2 linked regions of the Homo sapiens genome follow. The protein of the gene in region 1 interacts with the protein of each later gene in a pairwise test. Each region holds a gene or a part of one and is shown on either strand. Other genes may lie near its edges.

Region 1 (3,810 bases):
CAGTGAGCTGAGATCGTGCCACTGCACTCCAGCCTAGGCAACAGAGCGAGACACCATCTCAAAAAAAAAAAAAAAAGAAAGAAAAAAAAGAAATCAATTTTTTAGCTTCACTTTCTCATTTTGTTTATGTTTATTATCATTCTACCTAGTTTTATCAGGGTTTATCCGACTTGAAAAGGATGGAGGATGGAGCTGGCTAACAAACCCTGCTCTGCTGTTTCTCAGCTCTGTAGTCCTGGTTCAGTTTCTTAGCCTCTCTGAGCATGAATTTCCTTGTCAGTAAAAAGCAGTTGCTACTCGTACCTACTGTGTAGGAAGGTTGTTTTGTGGATTAAATGAGACAGCAAAGCACTTACAGCAATATTTGGTAAATGGTAGTTGCTACAATTCTAATTTACCAAGTAAGCATAATTTACCAAATAATAATAATTAAAAAGGAATTCATTCAATGCCCCAAGTATCACTGAAACTGGCCCAACTATCCCATAGAACTAATGTTTATGGTTTCTTTTGAATATACATAGAAACTGACCCTCCCAGTTTTAAAACTCCAGAAAGTTACATTTGTCTTATCTGAGTTCCTTTCTCAGGAAACCAAACATCAGGCCTCCCCCAAGGAACTGAAACTTACCAGATCATTGCATCTGGACAGAGATGCAACACCCCTTACCCAGCATGACTGCATAACCCACCACCTGCTTCCTGCTGACCAACTCCTTTTCCTTACCCCTCTCTAATTCCAGTTTGTTTGTTTTTTGAGACACAGTCTCACTCTTTCGCCCTCCAGTGGCGCCATCTCGTCTCACTGCCAAGCTCTGCTTCCCAGGTTCACGCCATTCTCCTACCTCAGCCTCCTGAGTAGCTGGGACTACAGGCGCCCGCCACCACGCCCGGCTAATTTTTTTGTATTTTTTTAGTAGAGACAGGGTTTCACCATGTTATCCAGGATGGTCCTGATCTCCTGAACTCGTGATCCGCCTGCCTCGGCCTCCCAAAGTGCTGGAATCACAGGCGTGAGCCACTGCACCCAGCCCCTCTAATTCCAGTTTTCTTCCATGCACTTAAATTTTCTTCCTGCTATATAAACCTCTGAGTTTAGTTGGTCAGGAAGATAGATGTGAGCCTGATCTCCCATCTCTTCGGCTGCGGGACTCAACTAAAGACTTCTTCCCGGGCAATACTTATCTCAGTGATTGGCCTTCTGTGTGGCCAGCAGCAGGACCCACACCAACACCCCAGCATTTTGGTAACATCACCAAGTCTCTTGAACTCTCAGGACCTCAGCTATCCATTTTCTCAATGAGGCCTTACTGCAAAAGGAACTGTTACTGTTCTTTGCAAATACCCACAATCTGAGTTCCTGCAAAATTGTGCAAAGAAAAAACATAGAAATCTATTCATCTCATCTTCTATATCACTAAGTGAAAGAAAAATACACTGCCCCACATCTGAGTTTAGCATTCTTAGCCCCCTTGTCCAGGGGTGCACAGCAACCAAGTGCAGGGCCAGGAAAGTCACCAGGGACTCTGAGCTCCTTAGGCTGAGGGACTGTCTCCAGGAGCTGATGGGCAGCCAGCCTCAGAGGGAAGACCCAGCTGCCCTCCCCATGATGGCGATGCAGCCAGCCAAGACTCAGCCCATTAGAGGGCTTGTCCCTTTGGACCTCAAGAAATATCTCTTCTGACTAAATTCCACAGCACTGCCCTGGGGGCTGTAGCACCTCCAGGTCAGGGCTTACCTAGAGACAGCAAGATCCTGTGCTGAGGGCATCTTTTAAGTTCAGATGTGACCAGAAAGGGCGGCAAAGTGTCCTTTTGGGACTGAGTCCATCTTACTCCCAAAAGGGTGAGCCACGCGGTGTGCCTGACCCCTCCATAAATACTGCCAACTGCCTGACAGTGATAGCATAGTGGTAATTGAGGCCCTTGCTGTTGTGGCCTTCTCCCTGACCCCACACTCTCGGTGGAGCTTGGAACCCTGTGTGGATTGCTGGCTTTAGCTCAAGAGTGATACAGAGGAGGATTGTGCAGCCAGACCCCTTGCTGTACCAACAACAATCTCTGAGACCTTAGGGCGAACTCCTTGCCATCTCTGTGCCTCGATTTCCTTATCCATAAAAGAGGGGATTTTATCTACTTCATGGGGGATCAATAATTAAATGAGGTCATCAATATAAAATGCCAGTATATGCTAGTTTTTGTTTTGTTTTGTTTTGTTTTGTTTTTTTAATCTTTATCCCATTAGAATGACATTAGTTAAGCCCTGGTTTTCCTTGAGTGAACTGAAGGCACTCCAAAAGTCTTACCAGCTACTTAGTTTTAATTAGTCTTGAATAAATACTTGGCAAATTCAGAGTGGAAAAAACAAAGACTTGGCTCTCAGAGAGTGACACTGGCCAAATTAGATGAGTTGAGGTTCTTGGAATCCTGGAGCTGTCCAACCTCGTCCACTTAGAAAGCAGGAAAGTGAGACCTTGAGAAGGGACCTGTTAGGAGCCACAAGCATTGTTGGGGTCAGAACTGGAACAAGGACACAGGTCTCCTCACCTCCCATCCTGGGCTCTGCAGACAGCAACTGCGGGCCCTTAGGGGTGACCAAAATGCCCTTTCCTACCGGCCAGCCAGCAACAAATGCTACCACCAGCTCCTGGAGCACCTCATGAGGTGGCTGGGGGAGACCCAGCCATATGGTACAAGAGACACAGCCAGGCAAGCCAGGGGCCCTCCTGCCATCCTCACCACATCGAACCAGGGTGCCTAAGCTGCCACAGATGCTCATCACTAGCAAAAGCTCCCAGAAGCCAGGTTGCCAGAGACCTGAAAAAGCATCAAAACGCATCGGGTGGATATGGCTGCATTATTCATGAGGAGCGTTTCTGCCCTCTTAAGCCAGCAAACACGACACACGCAAGCTGATTTGAGTCAATCCTGCCAGCATCGGAGAGCCCCAAAATAGCCCACCTGGCATTCCTGCATTCATTCAAGCACATGCATTTTTGGAGTCTCTCCTTGGCACAGTGGGGCGAGTAGTGGGTGGGGGGCTGTGATTCCAGCCCAAGAATGGAAAAGCTTAGCAAAGGCAGACGTTTCCTGTCTTATCTGATGATCTGGTGTCTTTGCTTCCTCTCAACTTGTCCCCAAAACTTGCCTGTTCCTCCCCTGCTCAGAATACTCCCATGGCTCCTATCTCACCAGAGTCAAAGCCAAAGCCTTCGATGCCTTCGATGGACAAGGTCTTGAACAATCAGCCTCCCACTCTCTCAAACCTCATCTCTACTCTTGTTTACTTCACTCCAGCCTCACTGGCCTCCCAGCTGGTCTGTTCCCAACTCACAGCCTCTGCATACGCTATTCCCTCTGCCAGGCACACACTTCCTGTAGATGTTGACACTGCTCCCTTCCTTCCTTCAGGTCTCTGCTCAAACACCATCCCATCAGTGAGGCCATCCCTGACCACCTCCTCTGGCAAGCCTTTCCCATCTCTTCCAGCCGTTATTTTCCTTGGAGCTCTTGTTACCTTTAATACATATTTCTTGTTTTCTCTATATGCCCTCCTGCCACTATACTGTACACTGAATGAGGGCATATGAGCAAAGACATTGCTTTACTCACTTCTCAGTTTGCAGCTTGTAGAACAGGGCCTGGCACATAGTAGATGCTTGATAAATATTTGTGGGAGGAAGGAAGGAAGAACGGAAGTGGGGGAGAAAGAAAATAACAGAGGGAGGGAGAAAGTTTTCTTCTAAGAGTTGGCAGAAACTGTCTATCCTGGTCCCTGCTATTAGCTGAAACTTCCTGAAGTACAGCCCTA
Region 2 (3,810 bases), on another chromosome or scaffold:
CACTTTACATATATTCGTATTTAGACCTCAGGACAACCCTGAGAAGGTGGTATCGGTGTTCAGCTCATCCCCATTTTACTGATGGGCAAACTGCGGCCCATGTGCCCAAGGAAGGTCCCTGGGAGCTGGGAAGTGGCAGAAGTGGACTAGAATCCAGGCTGTCTGCCCAGAGTCCCCTCAGCTAACAGGTAATGCTGCCGGTTATGAAAAGGAAGGGAGGGCTGGGCGCGGTGGCTCATGCCTATAATCCCAGCACTTTGGGAGGCCAAGGAGGCTGGATCACCTGATGTCAGGAGTTCGAGACCAACTCCTGGCCTGGCCAACATGGTGAAACCCCATCTCTACTAAAAATACAAAAATCAGCTGGGCATGGTGGTGGGCACCTGTAATCCCAGCTACTTGGGAGGCTGAGGCAGGAGTATCGCTTGAACCTGGGAGGCAGAGGTTGCAGTGAGCCGAGATTGCACCACTGCACTCCAGCCTGGGTGACAAGAGTGAGACTCTGTCTCAAAAAAAAAAAAAAGAAAGGGAAGGGATGCCGGAGATAGGGTCCGGCTGGAGCACTCACCAGATCCTCCACCGTGGCGGGGCCCCGGGATCGGAGCCGCAGGGTCCCTCGGCCAGTGCCCAGTTGTGGGCCAGAGCCAGGGCGGCCACCCGCTGAACGCTGGCTGATCATGTCTGTGGGAGGCAGGAGAGGAGTGAGTGTGGGGGAAGCTTGGTTTTAGCACGTTCTGGGCAGGAACTTGTCCTTCCTGGCTTTCACCACCACCCCAAACTTCTCCAGGCTTCTGCAAGTTTCTGGGGGCTGGGGCCGGGGTGATCCCAGGAGGGCAGGAATCCTGACTCAGGCCTGGCATGGATGTGGGGCAGAGCAGGGGGAACAGCTGGGGGCCAGGAATAGGAAATGCTGGAGGGGAGACTGGAGGGGCCACTTCTGCTCCCAGGGGCTGGGGGACAGGAAGCAGGTGTACCCCAGCCTGAGTCTCCAGCTGCCTGAGTCCGTCTCCTCTTGGCCAAGGGGGTATGGCTGCTGGGCCACAGACCAGCCCTACCTGCCCAGGGAAGTGATTTAGTCCCCCACCCCCACCTCAGGGGCCTGGGGCCCATTCCTGAGAGTTAGTGAAGCCAGATGGAAAAGTGGGGGGGCTGGCACTGAGCAGTCAAGCCTGGCCTGTTGGGGATAGGGGGCTGGCCAGGGCTGAGGGCGCTTGGCTGGGCTAATGGCCCCTGGAAGCTAGGTGTGAGGGCAACTTCCTCCTCGCCCCCGCCCTTCTCCCAGGCTGGGCCAAGGGCCAGCACCCCGTCTGGGGTCGGGAGGAGCTGCAACCCCTTCCCTTTCTGCAACCCCTTCCCTTTCGGCAGGCCAGGCTTGGGCGCCACCTGCTGGCCGCTCCCGGCACCACCGCCTGCGCCCATGCGAGCAGCGCCACTGGGGAGGTCCAGGGGGCGGCTCCTCACCGAAGGCCTTGCGAGGCTCCGTGAGCTTCAGCGTGAAGGTACGGCCTCGGGGCAGCTCCTTGAGCAGCCGGGCCACCTCGTAGTGCCGGCAGCCCAGCAGGCTCTGCCCGTTAATGGCCTCGATCATGTCGCCCACGCTGATGAGGTGGATGTGGTCGATCACGCTGCCCTCCTTGATGCGCTGCGGGGGCGGGGAGTCATCAGCCCTTGGGGCTCTGCCCTGGTTTCCGGGGTCCCATGGCCCACCCTCACTCCCAGGCCTCCGGGGTGCCCCGTCTCCCCAGGCACCTTGATGAAGGCGTAGCCAGCCCCGTTGTCCGTGATGGTGAGCCCGAGTGCATCCTCCGACTTGAACACCTCCACCTCCTTGCGCTGCCCCTTCACGTGGGCGAAGATGAAGTCCTCCAGCCCGATCTGGCCCCCCAGGAGCTTGTCCATGTCCACTTTGTGGGTGTTCAGGGTGCAGAACATCACCTGCAGGGGTGGGAGACGCTGAAACCTCTTCCCCCTCCCTCCCCCTTTTCTAATCACCACTGGAGGGCGAAGGGAGAGAGCTGGGAGAGGACTAGGGGGATTCCATCCCAGTAACTCATCACCCACTGAGCCTGAGCCAGGGCCACAGCAGGGCCCACATTAGCGTGTCAGCTCTGCTAGGACTAGGATTTAGTTTTCCTTTCTCTTTTTGAGACAGGGTCTTGCTCTGTCACCCAGGCTGGAGTGCAGTGGTGCCATCATAGTCACTGCAGCCACAACCTCCCAGATTCCGGCAATCCTCCCACCTCAGCCTCCCAAGTAGCTGGAACTACAGGTGCTCGCCACCATGCCTGGCTAATTTTTGTATTTTTTGTGGAGATATGGGGTCTCACTATGTTGCACAGGCTGGTCTCCAACTCCTGGGCTCAAGTGATCCTCCTGTCTCAGTCTCCCGAGTAGCTGGGACCACAGACACGTGCCACCACACCCACATAGTTAAAATAATTTTTTTTAGAGATGGGAGCCTCATTATGTTGCCCAGGCTGGCCTGGAACTCCTGAGCTCCAGTGATCCCCCCATCTCAACCTCCCAAGTAGCTGGGACTATAGGTGTGCACCACTGTACCCAGCTAGGATTTCGGTCCTAGCAAAAATTCATTGCTGTGCCAGGTGCGGTGGCTCACGCCTGTAATCCCAGCACTTTGGGAGGCCGAGGTGGGCAGAACACGAGGTCAGGAGATCGAGACCAACCTGGCCAACATGGTGAAATCCTGTCTCTACTAAAAATACAAAAATTAGCTGGGTCTGGTGGCGGGCGCCTGTAATCCCAGCTACTCGGGAGGCTGAGGCAGGAAAATGGTTTGAACCCAGGAGGTGGAGGTTGCAGAGAGCCAAGATCGTGCCACTGCACTCCAGCCTGGTGACAGAGCAAGACTCCATCTCAAAAAAAAAAAAAAAAAAAAAAAAAAAATTCATTGCTGCTTTCAGGGAACGGAGCCTGGCACACAGTGAGTGCTCAGGAAATGCTTGTGGAGGACACAGAAACTCATCCCACTTAGGGAGACCCCTGCGTCTACTTCTTGCTCAAACCCACTATTGCCCTCCTTGACCCCCTCCCATCTATCCCCACAGTGCTTGGCACCAGGCAAGCCTGCCTCCCACAGCGTTGAGTTTCTCCAAGGCATCACGGAGAAGTGCATCTCGTATCTGGCCTCTAGCCTCCACCATCTCATGGGGCACTGGCCTCCCAATGCCTGACAGGAACTCAGCATCCAGCCCTGGCCATCAGCTCCCACAGTCTGTAGAGGTGCAGGCCTCTCAGTGTCTGATGGGAACTCAGCATTTAACTGTGGCCATCAGCTCCCCACAATCTACTGGGGTGCAGGCCTCCCAACGCCTGATGGGAACTCAGCGTCCAGCCCTGGTCGTCAGTTTTGCACAATCGACTGGGATGCAGGCCTCTCAATCCATCCATCCAATCAATCCATCCAGCCCTGGCCTCCCACAGTCCATTGGAGCTCAGGTCTCTCAGTGCCTGTTGGGAACTCAGCATCCACCCCTAGTCTTGCACAATCTACTGGGGGTACACCCCTCCTAATGCCTGATGGGATGTCAGCATGCAGCCCTGGCCATCAGCTCCCACAATCCACTGGGGCACAGGTCTCCCAGTGCCTGATGGGAACTCAGCATCCAGCCCTGGCCTCCAGTTCCCCACAATTCACAGGGGCACAAGCCTCCCAGTGCCTCATGGGGACTCAGCATCCAGCCCAGGCCATTGGCCCCCACCACTGAGTGGGGCCCAGGCTCAGCATCTGCAGCTTCAGCATCTGAGCCCCAGCTCATGAACAGGATGCAGGCCCAGACCTCTGGTCCACCA

What was found.
Region 2: the proteins of SGSM1 (region 1) and GIPC1 interact in binary tests that used the Homo sapiens proteins (3 or more experiments, as listed by UniProt).

The regions. Positions count from the first base shown.
Region 1 is NC_000022.11:24,812,684-24,816,493, reverse strand, and holds part of SGSM1 (small G protein signaling modulator 1), read right to left. Parts: intron 1-3,810. UniProt on the Homo sapiens protein: Interacts with numerous Rab family members, functioning as Rab effector for some, and as GTPase activator for others. Promotes GTP hydrolysis by RAB34 and RAB36.
Region 2 is NC_000019.10:14,478,844-14,482,653, forward strand, and holds part of GIPC1 (PDZ domain-containing protein GIPC1), read right to left. Parts: intron 1,936-3,810; coding exon 1,750-1,935; intron 1,643-1,749; coding exon 1,462-1,642; intron 682-1,461; coding exon 569-681; intron 1-568. UniProt on the Homo sapiens protein: May be involved in G protein-linked signaling.